Regions from separate parts of the Homo sapiens genome. Here region 1 is linked to region 2. A link means that fine-mapping ties the variant in region 2 to the expression of a gene that starts in the linked region. Tissue or cell type: whole blood. Region 2 holds a variant in brackets; the other region holds the start of a gene. All regions are shown on one strand. Distances are from middle to middle.

What was found. PIP is the estimated chance that this variant, and not a neighbour inherited with it, causes the effect.
Region 1: ING5 starts here. The variant in region 2 is fine-mapped to the expression of ING5 in whole blood (TOPMed, PIP above 0.99).

What each region holds. Positions count from the first base shown.
Region 1 is chr2:241,698,888-241,708,063 of GRCh38, reverse strand. ING5 (inhibitor of growth family member 5) reads right to left here and starts at 6,025. Exons shown (of 8, transcript NM_032329.6): 1 at 5,962-6,025; 2 at 3,340-3,411. The coding sequence starts at 5,998. RefSeq lists enhancers at 4,907-5,536, 5,775-6,607 and silencers at 5,262-5,821, 6,006-6,169, 5,912-6,731.
Region 2 is chr2:241,724,706-241,733,668 of GRCh38, reverse strand. ING5 (inhibitor of growth family member 5) reads right to left here. Exons shown (of 8, transcript NM_032329.6): 8 at 4,191-8,680. The coding sequence ends at 8,638. Among named protein-coding and RNA genes, the nearest start is that of D2HGDH, 5.4 kb to the left of the region's middle. The variant G/A (reference allele first, on the strand shown) is at 4,996.

The DNA.
Region 1 (9,176 bases), 26 kb after region 2:
TAGCTGGGCATGGTGTTACGTGCCTATGGTCCCAGCTACTCAGGAGGCTGAGGCAGGAGAATCACTTGCACCCAGGAGGCAGAGGTTGCAGTGAGCCGAGACCGTGCCACTGCACTCCAGCCTGATGGTAAAGCGAGACTCCGTCTCAGAAAAAAAAAAGAAAACTACTGTTAAAGGTGGAAGGTGACTGTCACCAAACTCAGGATGGTCACCCCTTGGTTGGGGAGGGGTGTCATGACTAGGAGGGTCACAAAGGCCTTCAGGTGCCAAAGGGCTTGATTTCTCCATCTCGGTAGCAGACAACAGAGAGGTTCACCTGGTAATATTTGTTAAGCAATCTATAATTGTTGCACATTCATTTCCTGAATATATGTTACATTTCACAATAAAATAACTCTCTGTATTCCCTAGTCAAGATGCTGTACCTAAGGAAAAAAACACAGCTATCTCAGTCTTGCAAAACATGTGCCCAGGCCGGGTGTGGTACTCACGTCTGTAATCCCAGCACTTTGGGAGGCCAAGGCGGGTGGATGAACCTGAGGTCAGGAGTTCAAGACCAGCCTGACCAACATGGAGAAACCCCGTCTCTACTTAAAATACAAAAAATTAGCAGGGTGTGGTGGCGCATGCCTGTAATCCCAGCTACTCGGGAGGCTGAGGCAGGAGAATTGCTTGAACCCGGGAGGCGGAGGTTGCGGTGAGCTGAGATCGTGCCATTGCACTCCAGCCTGGACAACAAGAGCGAAACTCCATCTCAAAACAAAAAAAACAAACCTGTGCCCAGCATAATGAATAAAAAATCTCAGGCCAGGCACAGTGGCTCACACCTGTAATACCAGCACTTTGGGAGGCCAAGGCGGGCAGATCACCTGAGGTTGAGAGTTTGAGACCAACCTGATCAACATGGAGAAACCCCATCTCTATTAAAAATACAAAATTAGCTGGGCATGATGGTGCATGCCTGTAATCCCAGCTACTCGGGAGGCTGAGGCAGGAGAATCACTTGAACCTGGGAGGCAGAGGTTGTGTTGAGCCAAGATCGCGCCATCGCACGCCAGCCTGGGCAACAAGAGTGAAACTCCATCTCAAAAAAAAAAAAAAAAAAAATTGCCACACCAAAACACATTATCATGAAATTTAAAACTTCAGAGATAAAGGAAACATCTCAAAAGCTTCTGAATAGGAATAACAAAAAAAAAATAGATCACACATATAAAGGACCAAGAATCCAAACGGCACCAGATTTTCTGCAGCAACGTGGAAGCTAGGAGACAAGGCAGCAATGTCGCCAACTTCCTGAGTGAAAACAATTGTCAACCTAGGATTCTATACCCAACCAAACTATCAGCTGAGTATGAGGCTAGAACAAACACATTTTCAGACATGCAATGTTACAAGAAAATCTACCTTCCTTTTTTTCTTTTTTTTTTTTTTTTTTGAGATGGAGTTTCGCTCTTGTTGCCCAGGGTGGAGTGCAATGGTGCGATCTCCAGGTGCAACCTCCGCCTCCAGGTTCAAGTGATTCTCCTGCCTCAGCCTCCCAATTAGCTGGGATTATAGGCGTGCGCCACCACACCCGGCTAATTTTGTATTTTTAGTAGAGACGGGGTTTCTCCATGTCGATCAGGCTGGTCTCGAACTCCTGACCTCAGGTGATCTGCCCACCTCAGCCTCCCAAAGTGCTGGGATTACAGGCATGAGCCACCGTGCCTGGCCAAGAAAATCTACCTTCCTATGTGCCTTTTTTTCAGGAACCTACCAAAGGAAAGGCTCTATCAAAACAGGAGAGCAAGGGCAAAAAGAAGACATTTAAGATTCAGGGAAGAGGGTCCCACACTGAAGAGGGGTGAAAGGAGATCCCAGGAAAACCTCAGGGCAACAAGTGTGCAGTTGGCATGGAAACAATCAGGACTGTGGCCTCCAGGACAGAGGGCTCTGCGGAAAGAAAGCACACACAGAACTGTCAGGGTAGACAGCCTGACAGACCACAAGGAAAAGCCCAGCTGGGGAGACAAGGGTCGAATGCAGAAAACAAAGCCAACAAACAGGGCCATGAGTAACTCTAAGAAATACACAAAGTTATTCCAAAGAGGTCATATAAGCACAGCAGGTGGCATGGCTCAGTGTTAAAGTACCTACACAGCTGCCCAATGGAAGTCCCATCACTGGTCTCACCACAAATTCTAACAACCTACAGCCAGGAGATGGGGGAGCCAGGTGAGGGCATGTGAGGGTGTGGGGGCCACTGGAGAAGTACAGCTGCCTGTGCCATATACGTCTGAACAACGTCTAAAACTGACGAGAGATAAAATAAGAAACAGCAACAAAAACATGTTGTTTAGAAACAGGGAGTTTAAGGGCCGGGCGCGGTGGCTCATGCCTGTAATCCCAGCACTTTGGGAGGCCTAGGCAGGCGGATCATGAGGTCAGTAGATCAAGACCATCCTGGCTAACATGGTGAACATGGTGAAACCCTGTCTCTACTAAAAATACAAAAAATTAGCTGGGTGTGGTGGCATGTGACTGTAGTCCCAGCTACTCGGGAGGCTGAGGCAGGAGAATCACTTGAACCCGGGAGGTGGAGGTTGCAGTGAGCCAAGATCGTGCCACTGCACTCTAGCCTGGGCAACAGAGTGAGACTCTGTCTCAAAAAAAAAAAAAAAAAAAAAGAAAAAAACAGAGTTAGGGCCAGGCGAGGTGGCTCACGCTTGTAATCCCAGCACTTTGGGAGGCTGAGGCGGGCAGATCATGAGGTGAGGAGATCAAGACCATCCTGGCTAACACGGTGAAACCCCGTCTCTACTAAAAATACAAAAAAAAAATTAGCCAGGCGTGGTGGCGGGCACCTGTAGTCCCAGCTACTCAGGAGGCTGAGGCAAGAGAATGGTGTGAACCCAGGAGGCAGAGCTTGCAGTGAGCTGAGATCACGTCACTGCACTCCGGACTGGGCGACAAAGCAAGACTCCGTCTCAAAAAAAAAGAAACGGAGTTAAATATCAAACGGCCAAAAAGTACTACCAAACTTTTAAAACAATGCACGCACTACACACTTTGAAAATTGAAAATATTTAAAAGAAAAAATTGGCAATAAATATTTTGATTGGAAAGGGTGATGGTTATAAAAACATGATATAAAGATGTGTAAGAACCCAAGAAACAATGTGGCTTCAAAAGTATCAACACCTACTGCAAGACACTGAGTGATACCCACGGCCCAGGGCTAGGCCAATGCCCCACTAACCTGGGTCCCCTCAAAACCCTCTGCCCCCAGCCTTCAGGAGCTGCTGGCTCCCACCTGTCAGAACTCAGTTCTGGTTGTATGGAGAGGTCTGAACCCACCTTCCGTCCTCTGGTCCAGCTCTCGCATCAGCTGGAAGTTCCTCTGAAGTTCGCAGGGAAGGTTCTCGATACCTGAAACGCAAAAACACAGAAGCCATGTACCTCTCAGCAGCAAGACAAAAATTCACCTCCAAAGGTTTTCTGTCTTTTTTTTTTGAGATGGAGTTTCACTCTTGTTGCCCAGGCTGGAGTGCAGTGGTGCGATCTTGGCTCACTGCAACCTACACCTCCCAGGTTCAAGTGATTCTCACGCCTCCGCCTCCTGAGTAGCTGGGATTACAGGCACATGCCACCATGCCCGGCTAGTTTTTGTATTTTTAGTTGAGACGGGGTTTCACAAGGTTGGCCAGGCTTGTCTCGAACTCCTGACCTCAGGTGATCCGCCCACCTCGGCCTCTCAAAGTGCTGGGATTACAGGTGTGAGCCACCAGGACTGGCCAAAAGTTTTATACTTCAAGTCTACAAGCCCACTCTGTATTCTGTCTCTGTCAGGGTTTGCGGAGCGGAAGGACTGTGATCTCATTTTTAGATGCAGGTACCAAACAGTGCTGACAAGAGGCTGTGTGCACACTTCGGAAGCTGTCAGAAGTCAAAGAAGGGAGAGGGAAACTTGGAAACCAACAGCACAGGCAGGGGAGGCCAACTGACCCCACCCTCTAGGCTGCCCCCCCTCAGTGAGCAGCATCTTCCAAGGCTCAAGCCAAAATCCCCTGGGTCCTCCTTGATCTTCCCCTACTTTACCCAGAAATCCAGTGCATTGAGCAGTGTAGCCACGCTGCCCACGCGACTTTATGCAAGGATAGAAATGTTTCCTCTCTCGGATGGGCGTGGTGGCTCATACCTGTAATCCCAGCACTTTGGGAGATCAAGACAGGCAAATCAGTTGAGGTCAGGAGTTCAAGACCAGCCTGGCCAACATGGTGAAACCCTGTCTCTACTAAAAATACAAAAATTATCCAGGCGTGGTGGTGCACAGCTACAGTCCCAGCTACTCGAGAGGCTAGGGCATGAGAATTGCTTGAACCTGGGAGGTGGAGGTTGCAGTGTGCTGAGATCATACCCTCCAACCTGGGCAACAGGGTGAGACTCCATTTCAAAAAAAATCAAAAAAAGAAAAAGAAAAGAAATGTTCTCTCTGAGCTGCCCAAGACAGTGGTGGCCATAGGGAGCTACTGAGCACTGGAAATGGGACTAACGCCATTCAATTTTTAATTTTACTTAAATAGTCCCTGTGGCTAGCGCAACCATTCCCCACAGTCTGCCAGGAGGACCCCCGTGCTGCTTTCGCGTCTGCTTTGTTACCCCCTAGACCAGGCCAACCTCCGCCCCCTGCACAGCTGACACAGGCTCCTAAGGGGGGCTGCCTCCTCCAGTCTTGGCCACCCTCCCATCTGCTGTTCACAGTTACCAGGCAATCATTTTAAACCTAACTCTATCTTATGCATCTGATGCTTCCAGCCCCAGTGTTTTCCCAGCTCCCCTAGAGGACAGAGGCACAGCCTCCCGGCTGGCACAGCCTCCCAGACACACACAAAGTCAACCCTCCTTGGGAGGCCAGCCCACTGGCTGGGCACCAGGATAGAGAAGGCCTCCCCTCCAGCGTGCTCCCCAGCTTGACTCTTCTACCCAGGGAACCCCCCACTACTCAGACCCCCAAGAGACAGCGGAGCACATGGGCAGAATCGGGCGTCCCTCTAGGGCAGCGGTCTCCAGCTCCAGGCCACGGCTCACTCGCCACTGTCTCAGCCCCTGGGCGGGTGCCAGGCCGAAGACCATGAGGATCCCCAGTGCAGCGCCCCCACAAGGGCCCTCCAGAGCCACCCGGCACAACCCCAAACACCGCGACCCCAAAGCTGTGCCCATCCCGGGCCGACGTCAGGGGTCCCGCGTGGGGTCTGCCCCTCTACGAGCGGGAGACCCTGAGCAGGCTGCTCGGCAGCGCTGGACCTTCCCTGGTGTGTAAAGTGAGGGAAAGCACCGTCCGCTCAGCCGCTGGGGGCGCCGACCTGCTGCCACCTGGAAACAGCACAGCCCGCCCACCAGGGCCGACTCGGCACCGCCCTCCCCGCCTCCGCGCCGCAGTCCCCAGTGCCGGGGAGAGACGCCCCGCGGCCCGCACGCCCTCCCCAGCCGCGGTCACACAAGAGGCCGGCGCACACGGGCGCACAGCCAGGCGGAGGCCCAGACCCCGGAGCCCCCAAGGCCCGGAGCCCCGCAGCGGGCGCCAGCTCCTCCTGCAGACGGGACAGGGACGGGCGGGACCTGGCGGGGCCGGGGCCGGAGCTGGGGGCGGAGATGAGGCGGGGCCTGGGTAGGGGCGGGACCTAATATGTGGGCGGGGTCGAGGCCGCAAGCCCCGCCCAGCATCGCCAGGCCCCGCCCCGCCGTGACGCACCTGGAATTGGCGCGACCCAGCCGGCGGGACCCCCCGCGCCCGCCCCCCGCGCCCTCCCCTCCCTTGCGGCCCTGCCCCGCCCCGTCCGCGCGCCCCCCGTCGCGCCCGGCCGCGCCCGCCGCCCTCCCGAGCCCACGGGGTCTGCATGCGGTGCCCGGCGCGCGGGGGGCTGCGGCACGGAGGACTCCGCGTGGGCGGCGGGCGCGGGGCCCGTGGGGCGCGCTTACTGTCCAGATAGTGCTCCAAGTACATGGCGGTCGCCATCTTCGTCCGCGGCCGCGCTCGGGGTCTGCGCGGGCGGGCGGTGCCGCGGGAGGCGGGGGCGGGGCGGTGCCAGCGCGCTCACTATTCATGAGTCGCGCGCGCTGATTGGTCGCGCCCGGGGGCGGGGTCGGACACGCCTTTCAGCTTCCGGCGGGCGGCGGGCTGCGGGGCCCGGGCGGAGGTTGTGGCAGCGGCGTCGGGCAGCGAGCAGGACCCAGGGCCGCAGCGGATCGGAGGCCGAGGAGGAGCAGGGGTTCCCGGCCCCACCGCCCGGCGTGCGGCCCAGGGCACCCAGGTGGGCGTCTCCCCTCCGCACCTGTCAGCGACCCCTGGGCCACCAAACGCAAACACGTGGTCCCGGGGACCTCACGCCCGTCCTGACGGCGCCCACGCGACCCCTGCTCCCGGCCGGGTCCCGGACAGGCCGCCACGAGGCCCTCCCTTCCCGAAGGCTCCTTGGGACCTGTCTGGCTCAGCGCCTTTCCCCCGGACCCCGAGCCCCCGGGGCCTCAGCCCGGCCTGAGCCGAGGGCCGGCACCGCGTGGCCCGGGCGAGCTGCCCCTCCCTCAGGGCCTGGGCCCTGGCGCCCTTCCCCCGCCAACGCCGCCCCTTCCCTCCGAGGAAAGCGGCCGCCCCGCCCAGCACCAGTGAGGGCACTGGCTCCTTTGCTGCCACCTCTCGAGGCAGGCAGGACCCGCACCATCTGGATGCCTTGGCCGAAAAGGCACGTGCGGCAGTATGATATAGTTAATAAGATGGCGTGCAAAGGTGTGCCGTAAGATGCATGCAAAAATACTGGAGAAGGCCGGCGCGCTGGCGCACGCCTGTAATCCCATCACTTTGGGAGGCCGAGGCGGGCGGATCACTTGAGGGCAGGAATTTGAGACCAGCCTGGCCAACGTGTTGAAACCCCGACTCTACTAAAAATACAAAAAAAAAAAAAAATTAGCCAAGCGTGGTGGCGCACGCCTGTAGTCCCAGCTACTCCGGAGGCTGAGCCCGGGAGGCGGAGGTTGTAGTGAGCTGAGATCGCGTCTGCACTCCAGCCTGGGCGACAGAGCAAGACTCTGTCTTCAAAAAAAAAAAAGAAAATTTTAAGAAAAAAAAAATACTGGAGAAACATAATTAAAATATGTTTCAGACTCGGCACGGTGGCTCACGCCTGTAATCCCAACACTTTGGGAGGCCGAGGCGGGCGGATCACTTGAGGGCAGGAATTTGAGACCAGCCTGGCCAACGTGGCGAAATCATGTCTCTACTAAAAATACAAAAATTACCCGGGCGTGGTGGCGGGCGCCTGTACTCCCAGCTACTCGGAGACTGAGGCAGGAAAATTACTTGAACTTGGGAGAGGGAGGTTGCAGTGAGAAGAGATCATGTAACTGCACTGCAGCTTGGGTGACAAGAGCAAGACTCCGTCTCAAAATAATAATAATACAAAAACTAGCCGGGCATGGTGGCAAGTACCTGTAATCCCAGATACTCGGGAGGCTGAAACAGGAGAATCGCTTGAGCTTGGGAGGCGGAGGTTGCAGTGAGCCGAGATTGCACCACTGCACTCCAGCCTGGCCAGCAGAGCAAGATTCCATCTCAAAAATAAAATAAAATAGGGCAGGCGCGGTGGCTCACTCCTGTAATTCCAGCACTTTGGGAGGCCAAGGCGGGAGGATCACGAGGTCAGGAGATTGAGACCATCCTGCCTAACACGGTGAAACCCCATCTCTACTAAAACTACAAAAAAATTAGCTGGGCATGGTGGCGGGCGCCTGTAATCCCAGCTACTCGGGCGGCCGAGGCAGGAGAATGGCGTGAACCCGGGAGGCTGAGCTTGCGGTGAGCCGAGATCGTGCCATTGCACTCCAGCCTGGGCGACAGAGCAACACTCCGTCCCAAAAAAAAAAAAAAAAAAAAAAAACTTAGCCGGGCATAATGGCTGGTGCCTGTAATCCCAGCTACCCAGGAGGCTGAGGAAGGAGAATCACTTGAACCTGGTACGTGGAGGTTGCAGTGAGCCGAGATCGTGCCACTGCACTCCAGCCTGGGTGACAGAGCGAGACTCCATCTTAAAATATAAAATAAAATAATTTAAAGTGTTTAAATATTAGTCTTTGGGGTGATTCTTCTCTGCCTCCAAACTGTGTAGCATCATCATGCAGTGCTCACCAGTACCCATGTCACTCCTCTTCCCACTTCACCACTGGACGCCCCCAAGCTGGGGATCAAACTCATCTCTGGCAGGTCTTTCATGGGTGAGGTGTGTCACTTCCCAGTCCTGTCTCCACTCCCTGTGATCTCAAGAGGACGTCCCAAAGGCTCCCCGAGCCCCAAGAACTGATGACCACTAGATGTAACGTGTAGGCCCCAGAACCCCCCGCCCCACCCCCAGCCACATCCTTGACTTCCGAGATGCAACGTTGCTGGTCACACAAATTAGCATAAGCTGATCAAAGGAGCAGTACTTTCATTATTTAAAATGCATTTTTAAAGATATTAAGCCAGCTGCTGTGACTCAAATCCGTATGATCACCATGAGAGGCTGAGGCGGGAGGATGGCTTGAGCCCAGGAGGTCTAGGCTGCAGTGAGCCATGATCAAACCACTGTACTCTTGCCTGGGTGACGGAGACCCCCACCTAAAAAAACAAGCTATGTCCCCCTTGGTGGACTCTTCCCTAAACCCCAGTCAAATATTGAAAACCAGAAACAATGTTTTTGCCACTATTATGTTCATTATAAAAATTCAGGCCAGGCATGGTGGCTCACGCCTGTAATCCCAGCACTTTGGAAGGATGAGGTGGGTGGATCACCTGAGGTCAGGAGTTTGAGACCAGCCTGACCAACATGGAGAAACCCAGTCTCTACTAAAAATACAAAATTAGCCAGGCGTGGTGGGCATGGGCCTGCAATCTCAGCTGCTCGGGAGCCTGAGGCAGGAGAATCATTTGAACCTAGGAGGCAGAGGATGCAGTCAGCTGAGGTCATGCCATTGCACTCCAGCCTGGGCTACAAGAGCAAACCCCTCCCCCCCCAAAAAAAAATTCAGCTGGGGTGGTGGCTCACGCCTGTAATCCCAGCACTTTGGGAGGCCAAGGTGGGTGGATCACCTGAGGTCGGGAGTTCGAGACCAGCCTGACCAATACAGAGAAACCCCATCTCTATTAAAAATACAAAAGTAGCTGG
Region 2 (8,963 bases):
GAGGGCAGAGAGCAGGAGACCACACTTGGCCCGAGGCAGGACTGCGGAGCTGTGCAAGAGGTGGAGGCTACGCCCGTGACAGCAGATGGGTCCTGGTAGTCACACAGAAAACCGGCGAGCTGGATTTGTCCTGGTGATGAGGCTCTGGAGCAGCAGTTGCAAGGAGTCATTCCTGTCCTCCTTAACCACATCCCCAGAGGCCACTCACCTTCTTCCCAGGTGAATCATTCATACAACCCTGGAAAGGAGACATCCACCTGGCCCTTCCTACCTGGCTGGCCCTTGCTCTGCAGATGAGTGTGGGAGTTTGCCCATTGTCAAGGGTAACTGTTGCAATTACACATTCAGGAACTGGAAAGACGACCACAGATGAGGTCTGTGGACCCCCTTACCACCTGACCTCCACACGCCCTCCCTTTGACTAGCAGGCCAGTGGCATCTTGGACCCCTGGGATTAGGAATGATTCAAAACCCATAAAGATTACCACCCATACCATCCCCTAAAATAACTGATTTTTCTGACCAGGCACGGTGGCTCACGCCCATAATACCAGCACTTTGGGAGGCTGAGGCAGGTGGATCACCTGAGGTCAGGAGTTCGATACCAACTGTGGGCGGCAAGCCACCCAGGTGCCGAGGCAAGAGACCGAAGACACGAGCTGTTCCAGTATAATAAAATAAGAATAGTTATACCAGATATAGATCTTAGATATGATTATATATGAATATCATTAATCATTAGTTGGTAGCAATTACTCTTTATTCCAATATTATAATAATCCTCGCTCTACAATCATAACCTAGGAAAAACCAGGCCATACAGAGATAGGAGCTGAGGGGACATAGTGAGGAGTGACCAGAAGAGTGCGAGCCTTCTGTTATGCCCAGACAGGGCCACCAGAGGGCTCCTTGGTCTAGCGGTGACGCCAGCGTCTGGGAAGACACCCGTTACCTAGCGGACCGTGGTCTAGCGGTAGCGAAAAGTGTCAAGAAACACCACCCGCTACTTAGCAGACCGGAAAAGGGAGTCTCCCTTTCCCCGGGGGAGTTTAGAGACGACTGTACTCCTCCACCTCTTGTGGAGGACCTGACATCAGTCAGGCTCGCCCGCAGTTATCCGGAGGCCTAACCGTCTCCCCGTGATGCTGTGCTTCAGTGGTCACGCTCCTAGTCCGCCTTCATGTTCCATCCTGTACACCTGGCTCTGCCTTCTAGATAGCAGTAGCAAAATTAGTGAAAGTACTAAAAGTCTCTAATAAGCAGAAATAATGGCGTAAGCTGTCTCTCTGTCTCCTCTCTCTCTCTGCCTCGGCTGCCAGGCAGGGAAGGGCCCCTGTCCAGTGGACACGTGACCCACATGACCTTACCTATCATTGGAGATGGCTCACTCTCCTTATCCTGACCCTTTGTCTTGTATCCAATAAATATCAGTGCAGCCTGGCATTCGGGGCCACTACCGGTCTCCGCAACTTAATGGTAGTGGTCCCCCAGGCCCAGCTGCCTTTTCTTTTATCTCTGTCTTGTGTCTTTATTTCTGTACTCTCTCGTCTCCGCACATGGGGAGAGACCCACCGACCCTGTGGGGCTGGTCCCTACACCAACCTGGCCAACATGGTGAAACCCTGTCTCTACCAACAATACAAAAATTAGCTGGGCATGGTGGTCGGTGCCTATAATCCCAGCTACTTGGGAGACTGAGGCAAGAGAATGGCTTGAACCTGGGAGGCAGAGGTTGCAGTAAGCTGAGATCACGCCACTGCACTCCAGCCTGGCGACAGAGTGAGATTCTGTCTCAAAAAAAAAAAAAAAAAACTGTCTCAGAAAATAATAACAACTGATTTTTCTTTTTCCCAGGGCATAGTCACCCTAGCAAAGCCCACATGTACCCTCAGAGAATGCTTGGAGGAAAATACGGCATGTGCTGGTTTCAGCGTTGTGGGGCCCTCACCCAGCATCTCAGCCTCCTCTTCCAGCGAGATGGCAGGTGCTGGTTTCCGCATTGTGAGGCCTTCCCCCAGCATCTCAGCCTCCTCTTCCAGCGAGATGGCAGGTGCTGGTTTCGGCGTTGTGGGGCCTTCCCCCAGCATCTCAGCCTCCTCTTCCAGCGAGGACTCCAGTCTACGGATTGGTTTTCACCTGGACGGTGGGTGAGAGGCCGACTGTACCTCGTGATGACCAAGCTCTTCCCGGGTTCTGTTAATGCACTCCTCAAGGCAACATCTTGAGACCCATCAGCTCCTGTTATGTTTGTGTCCCCCAGAATTCGTATGCAGAAGCTGTAACCCCCAATATGGCCGTATTTGGAGATGGAACTTCTGAAGAAGTAATTAAGGTTAAAGTCAGTCACAAGGGTGGGGTCCTGATCCGACAGGACAGGCATCCGTAAAATAAGAGACACCAGAGAGCTCCCTCTCCCAGTCAGTTTCGTAGGCACACATGAGAAGGCAGTGTTCACAACCCAAGGGAAGAGCCCTGGACAGGCACCAGACAACCCCAGCGCCTTAATCTTGGACTTCCAATCTCCAGAAATATAAGACATTTTTCTTAAGCCTCCCAGTCTGTGGTATTGTGATAACAGCCTGATATGGTTTGGATTTGTGTCCCCGCCCATAATCCCCAATGTTGGGGGAGGGGCCTGGTAGGAGGTGACTGGCTCATGGGCGCAGATTTCCCCTTGCTGTTCTTGTGGAGGTAAGTGAACTCTCAGGAGACCTGCTTGTTTAAAAGTGTGGCACCTTTCCCCTTTGCTCCCTTTCTCTCCTGGTCTGCCGTGGTAAAACGTGCTTGCTTCCCCTCCGCCTTCTGCCATGATGTAAGTTTCCTGAGGCCTCCGCACCACGCTTCCTGTACAGCCTGCAGAACTGTGAGTCAATTAAACCTCATTTCTTTATAAATTACACAGTCTCAGGTCGTTCTTTATAGCAATACAAGAATGGACTAATACAGAGCCTAAGCTGACTCCAGCAGCTTCCAAAAGGCAAGTGCAACACGGTAAGTCTTGCCCTTCCAGAGCAAGCACAGTACTCCTTTAGAAAGCAACTGCAGCGGCCGGGCGTGGTGGCTCACGCCTGTAATCCCAGCACTTTGGGAGGCCGAGGCAGGCGGATCACGAGGTCAGGAGATCGAGACCATCCTGGCTAACACGGTGAAACCCTGTCACTACTAAAAATACAAACAATTAGCCGGGCATGGTGGTGGGCGCCTGTAGTCCCAGCTACTCGGGACACAGGCAGGAGAATGGCGTGAACCTGGGAGGCGGAGCTTGCAGTGAGCAGAGATTGCACCACTGCACTCCAGCCTGGGCAACAGAGTGAGACTCCGTCTCAAACAAAAAAAAAAGAAAGCAACTGCAGCATTCTCACACGTCTTCCTTGGAAGTCAACTTGAGCCCCAGCACTGGCCACTGAGCTTCCTGAGCAACCACCCAAGGTAAGGCACAGGGTCCTCCCCAGACCCCCAGCCAGCAAGCTCCGCAAACCACTCTCCAATCACTGCATACCCCTTCAGAATTCAATTTCACACACCTGTCTCTGGGCACAACACTGACATTTTACACCTGTTTCCCAAAATGATGCTGAGTCTTGGGGGTGGTTCCCCCATACTTTTCTCGTGGTAGTGAATAAGTCTCACGAGATCTGATGGTTTTTTTAAGGGGAAACCCCTTTCACTTGGCTCTCATTTTCTATTGTCTGCTGCCATGTAAGATAAGCCTTTCGTCTCCCGCCATGATTGTGAGGCCTCCCCAGCCATGTGGAACTGAGGGTCCACCAGACCTCTTTTTCTGTCAGGTGCGGTGGCTCACGCCTGTAATCCCAACACTTTGGGAGGCTGAGGCAGGCAGATCACCTGAGGTCAGGAGTTCAAGACCAGCTTGGCCAACATGGCAAAACCCCATCTCTACTAAAAATACAAAAATTAGCAGGGCGTGGTGGCACGTGCCTGTAGTCCCAGCTACTCAGGAGGCTGAGGCAGGAGAATCACCTGAACCCGGGAGGCAGATGTTACAGTGAGCCGAAATCATGCAGTGCCATTGCACTCCAGCCTGGGTGACAGAGCAAGACTCCGTCTCAAAAAAAGAGAAAAGAAAATTTTTTTTAAAAAAAACCTCTTTTTCTTTACAAATTACCCAATCTCGGGTATGTCTTTATCAGCAGCGTGAAAACGGGCTAATACAGATGCACTTTCAATTGTTTGTTCCAAAAAATACTTTATTTATTAAACAATATATCCATAATCTATAACATGATCCAAAAATACTGATATACATCTTTACATTATCTAATAAAAAGATTTACAACATTATCTTTCCTTTACAAAGGGAACATAGATAATAATTCCTTGAAAATAAAAATGTAACATTCATGTTAAAGCTGCATCATCGTTTTGGATGAAACGTGGTTAAAGGTGGACACCACAAAATACATACAGAGGAAGAAAGAAACTCCAACACAATCTCTCCTGAATGGGAACATTTTCTTACACTTCCCCTGGCTTAAAATTCCTCTCAGCACAAGTATTGAAGGCCAATCACTGCTCACTAAAAATTTAAGAAAACCTTAAGTCTTCAATGCCCATAATTAACATCCCTCACGGTTTTACTCTAAACCATGAAGACCTAACCTAGGACAGGGCAGACCCTCGGCTCTGGGGTCATGTGGGAAGCTGCTCTGGGCCAGCGTCATTGCTCAAAGCAGCCCCAGCCAGGGCTCCCAACGACAGGACAGGAGGCCAAGTCCGGCAGGGCTGCTGGACACCAGACAAGCTGGCCGGTGTCCCCATCAGTCCCAGCAAACCCTCCCACCGCCACCAGTCTGCACAGCTGCTTCTCGCTGCTCCAGGCAGACTGGAAAACACCCACGCCACAAAGCCCTGGCCAACAGTGAGACGGGCGGTCAGCTGCTGCTCAGGCAGCCACGTAGGCCTCCGCACGGCGTCCCTGGCCAACAGTGGTCTCATGTCCACCCGCCCAGGGGTCCCGTCCAGCATGAGACGGGC[G/A]GTCAGCTGCTGCTCAGGAGGCCACGCAGGCCTCCGCTTGGCATCCATGTCCCCAGCAGCAGCACCTAGGGCACATTCGCAGATGCAGAGGGCTCGGTTTCACCAGCTCCTGTTTTCACTGCAGCCTGCCTTCCCCTACAGGATTTCCTCAGATCACTGACTGATACCGCAGCACTGAAAACAAGGAAAATGGGTAGAACGCTCCTTCCCATCGAGGTCAATCGCACAGCCACAGAGGACCCACACCTTCGGCTCAGATGAAGCTGCCACAGTGACCCACTGGTTCCAGCCCACACACCCTCAATCCAAGAGATGGGTCTGGGGCCGGGCAGCTGTGGAGGGGGGTCTGGTCCGAGACCAAATCCTTGAATCACCCCCAGGGAGAAGGCGGCCAGGCCTTCTGGAGCAAGGCGTGGATGGTGCAAATGGTGTGGCTTCTGTGTCCCTGCAGGGCGGGGGCCAGGCCAGGGGCCATGACCTTCTTTTCTGGCCAAACGGCCACTCCTGAGTGTGTCTCTCCCACGGGTAGACAGCGTCAGCCACAGAGCACTCAGGATTCAGTTGGGTCCAAACTACAGCCCAAGGAATTGTCTCATTCTGCTCATGTTTTCTATGTTTCTTCCAAAACTCTATGCATATTATTTTGGTGATATTATTGTAAGTGGCAAAAGTAAACATTAAAAACACTAAGCACAGAAACTTGAAAAGAAAAGGTCAAAATTCAATACCTGGGATGGTGCACAGTGGCAGGCAGGACCACATCATCACGTGTCAGACAAAAGCGTCCCACAGGGAAGCCAGTCATCTTTCCCCAAAAAGCAGCGAGACCTCAGGAAGCCGGGCAGCCAAAAGCATCAACAACCCCAGCGCTTTCCAGGGGTAGCCACAGGTGTGAACAGCTCAAAGGTGGAGCGCAATATCAAATTCATTTCTGAAAAATTGCCAGGCGCTGTTTCAGCACAAACTCCCTGCACTTACCTATCCCTCTTCCCAAAAATGGTAAAAGAGAGAAAAACATTTTCCACAATGTATCCTCCACGATCAATAAACATCTGTGTTGGCCGGGTGCGGTGGCTCATGCCTGTCATCCCAGCACTTTGGGAGGTCGAGGCGGGTGGATCACTTCAGGTCAGGAGTTCGAGACCAGCCTGGCCACACATGGTGAAACCCCATTTCTACTAAAAATACAAAAATTAGCTGGGCGTGGTGGTGGACGCCTATAATCCCAGCTGCTCGGGAGGCTAAGGCAAGAGAATCACTTGAACCCAGGAAGCAGAGGTTGCAGTGAGCCAAGATGGTGCCATTGCATTCCAGCCTGGGTGACAGAGCAAAACTCCGTTTCAAAAACACAAAACAAAAAACAAAACACACACACACACACACACACAAAACCTGTGCTAACAAAAAGTTAAGTCATTAAATGAAAATTCATCTCCCAGCTGAGCGCAGTGGCTGACACCTGTAATCCCAGCACTCTGGGAAGCCGACGCAGGCGGATCATTTGACCCCAGGAGTTTGAGACCAGTCTGGCCAATATGGTGAAACCCCGTCTCCAACAAAAATACAAACTTAGCTGGGTGGCCAGGCGCGGTGGCTCACGCCTGTAATCCCAGCACTCTGGGAAGCCGAGGCGGGCAAATCGTGAGGTCAGGAGATCGAGACCATCCTGGTTAACATGGTGAAACCCTGTCTCTACTAAAAATATAAAAAATTAGCCAGGCGTGGTGGCGGGCGCCTGTAGTCCCAGCTACTCGGGGGGGCTGAGGCAGGAGAATGGCGTGAACCCGGGAGGCGGAGCTTGCAGTGAGCCGAGATCACGCCACTGCTCTCCAGCCTGGGTGACAGAGCAAGACTCCGTCTCAAAAAAAAAAATTAACATACAAAACCCACCCATCTCCAGTTTCACAGCCGTGGCGAAGGGTGTGAAGCACTGTAGCCTGCCCTCTCTGGCGCTTTCCCTTCTAAGCCGCAGGAAGGCACCGCTTGGAGGGAGCCCCTTCAGGCCCAGACACTGGCAGGGACGAGCAGCAGCAGTGGCCGACCGCCCGCCTGCACCTGCCTGGCACCTGCGCCCGGAGGATCCACTCCCACCCACACCCTCGGAAAAGGACAGGTGGCCCAGAGGCATCCGTGTGTTCAAGAACCGCAGAACATGAATGTGGACACCATCCCAACCAGGACTGTTCAGGGTGTTCTTGTTCTCTTGTTCTCACTCACTGACTACCAGCTTCTCGACGGGAGGGCCCCGTCTGAGACACAGAGCTTCACACGTTCCTTCTGCTTTATTTCCTCTCCCTAGTGAAACATTAAACACAGGAGGAAAAGATACAGATGTAGCCATCAGAAGGAAGTGAGGCTGTCATTCCAAATGGCCCCCCACCATGAAGAAACCCAGGCTTCTTAAATCAGGAACCTCACGTCTCAGTTTTCCCTCAGGTTTCTTTCTGTGGTGTGAGGACAGAAACAGGCGTCCCTGCATTCCTCAGCAATCCTCTCCTTCCTCTAAAGGCACGGGAGAGGATTTCCGAGCGCCTGCGATGCTGTGGGGAACCGCAGGCTGGGCACCGTCACCAACGCGTCACAACAGAGCAAATCTGCATAGCCTTCCCCAACTACCACCGAAAGGATGGCTCCGGCTCAGCTTGGTGAACGCTCATTAAACAAAAAGCACACTCGAGTTTCCTAGCTTCATTCCAGAACTGCTATTGTGGCACAACAAATTCACAACAAATTCACATCGGAGTCCCCTCGACCGGGAGCTGCGGGCCTGGGAATGCACAGCACAGGCAGAAGCATTCGTGGTTCGTCAGCTCCTGGCAGACGGGACTCACTTCACGGACACACAGACCCACGATCTTCATGCTATTAGGGTAATTTCATCTTCACAGTAAAAAATCACCAATTCCCAGAGAAACGGAGCATCAGCCCAGCTGTCGCACAGGGTCTCGCGGGTGCTGGTCACGGGACCTGCGGCCACTCCAAGCTAATGAAGAGCCGTTTACTCCGGAGGTGAGTCCCCGAGGGAGGACTGAAGTCCAAGCTAAAAAGGCGGCGCCAGCGAAGCGGAGGCCGCTTCCTCCAGGGAAGAGCCCCCAGCCCTCCCGGGCCCATCCGAGGCGCCCCACGCGGGAGCGCACGGTGGCCGGAGGCGGCGCGGAGCCGAGTGTGAGGAGGGCAGCCGCCGCCACGGCAGTGGCCCCACGCGCGCCTCGGTGGCAGGTGCTCCAGCGGGCGGGGCACGCGGAGCCCGGGCTGTACCGGACAGTCCTGGAAAACCACAGGAAAGCTACGCGAGGGTGGCGGCCGCCCTCCGTGGACCAGGTTACCATGTCCCCGCCCGCACGCCCGGCCGGGCAGCCCGAGCTCACGCGCGCCCGCCCACGTCCGCCGGGGTCCCTGCTGATGCTCGGGGGGAGTCCTGTAAAAGCCACACTGAGGTCGCGGCGGCGAGTCCCTGCAAGGTCGCCCTTCTGTGCGAACAGGCTTTGGTGGTTCTTGTTCTAGGAAACATCCAGCGCTTCAACTGGCCACGGAGTTACTAAGTATCAACCGAACAAGGTAGTTTTAAAAGGAAGGGAAATATTGCGACACGAATGAAGGGACAGATTAACTTGCTCCTCGGATCCGGGCACACAGCTCCTCCTACTTCTTCTTCCTCTTTTCCTGGACACACCGTGGACAGAACCTGTGACAAGAAAGGCGCAGTGAGGCCCTGGGCGCCATTTCCGCCAGCGCGCAGGGTGCCCAGGGCCCGCCTCCCCATGTCTCCCAGGGCTGCTGGACGCCGGCAGGAGGGCACCAGGAGAGGCACACGCAGTGGGGCCGCGGCCCTCCCGCAGGGAAAATGCGCCGATGCACGTGCGGCTCTATGCAGGACGCCGGTTCTGAAGCTGACAGATACACCATCAATGAGCAAAACCGATTTGACACCCAGGCGTTCCTCCTTAACAGGTGGGTCCTTCTTCCCC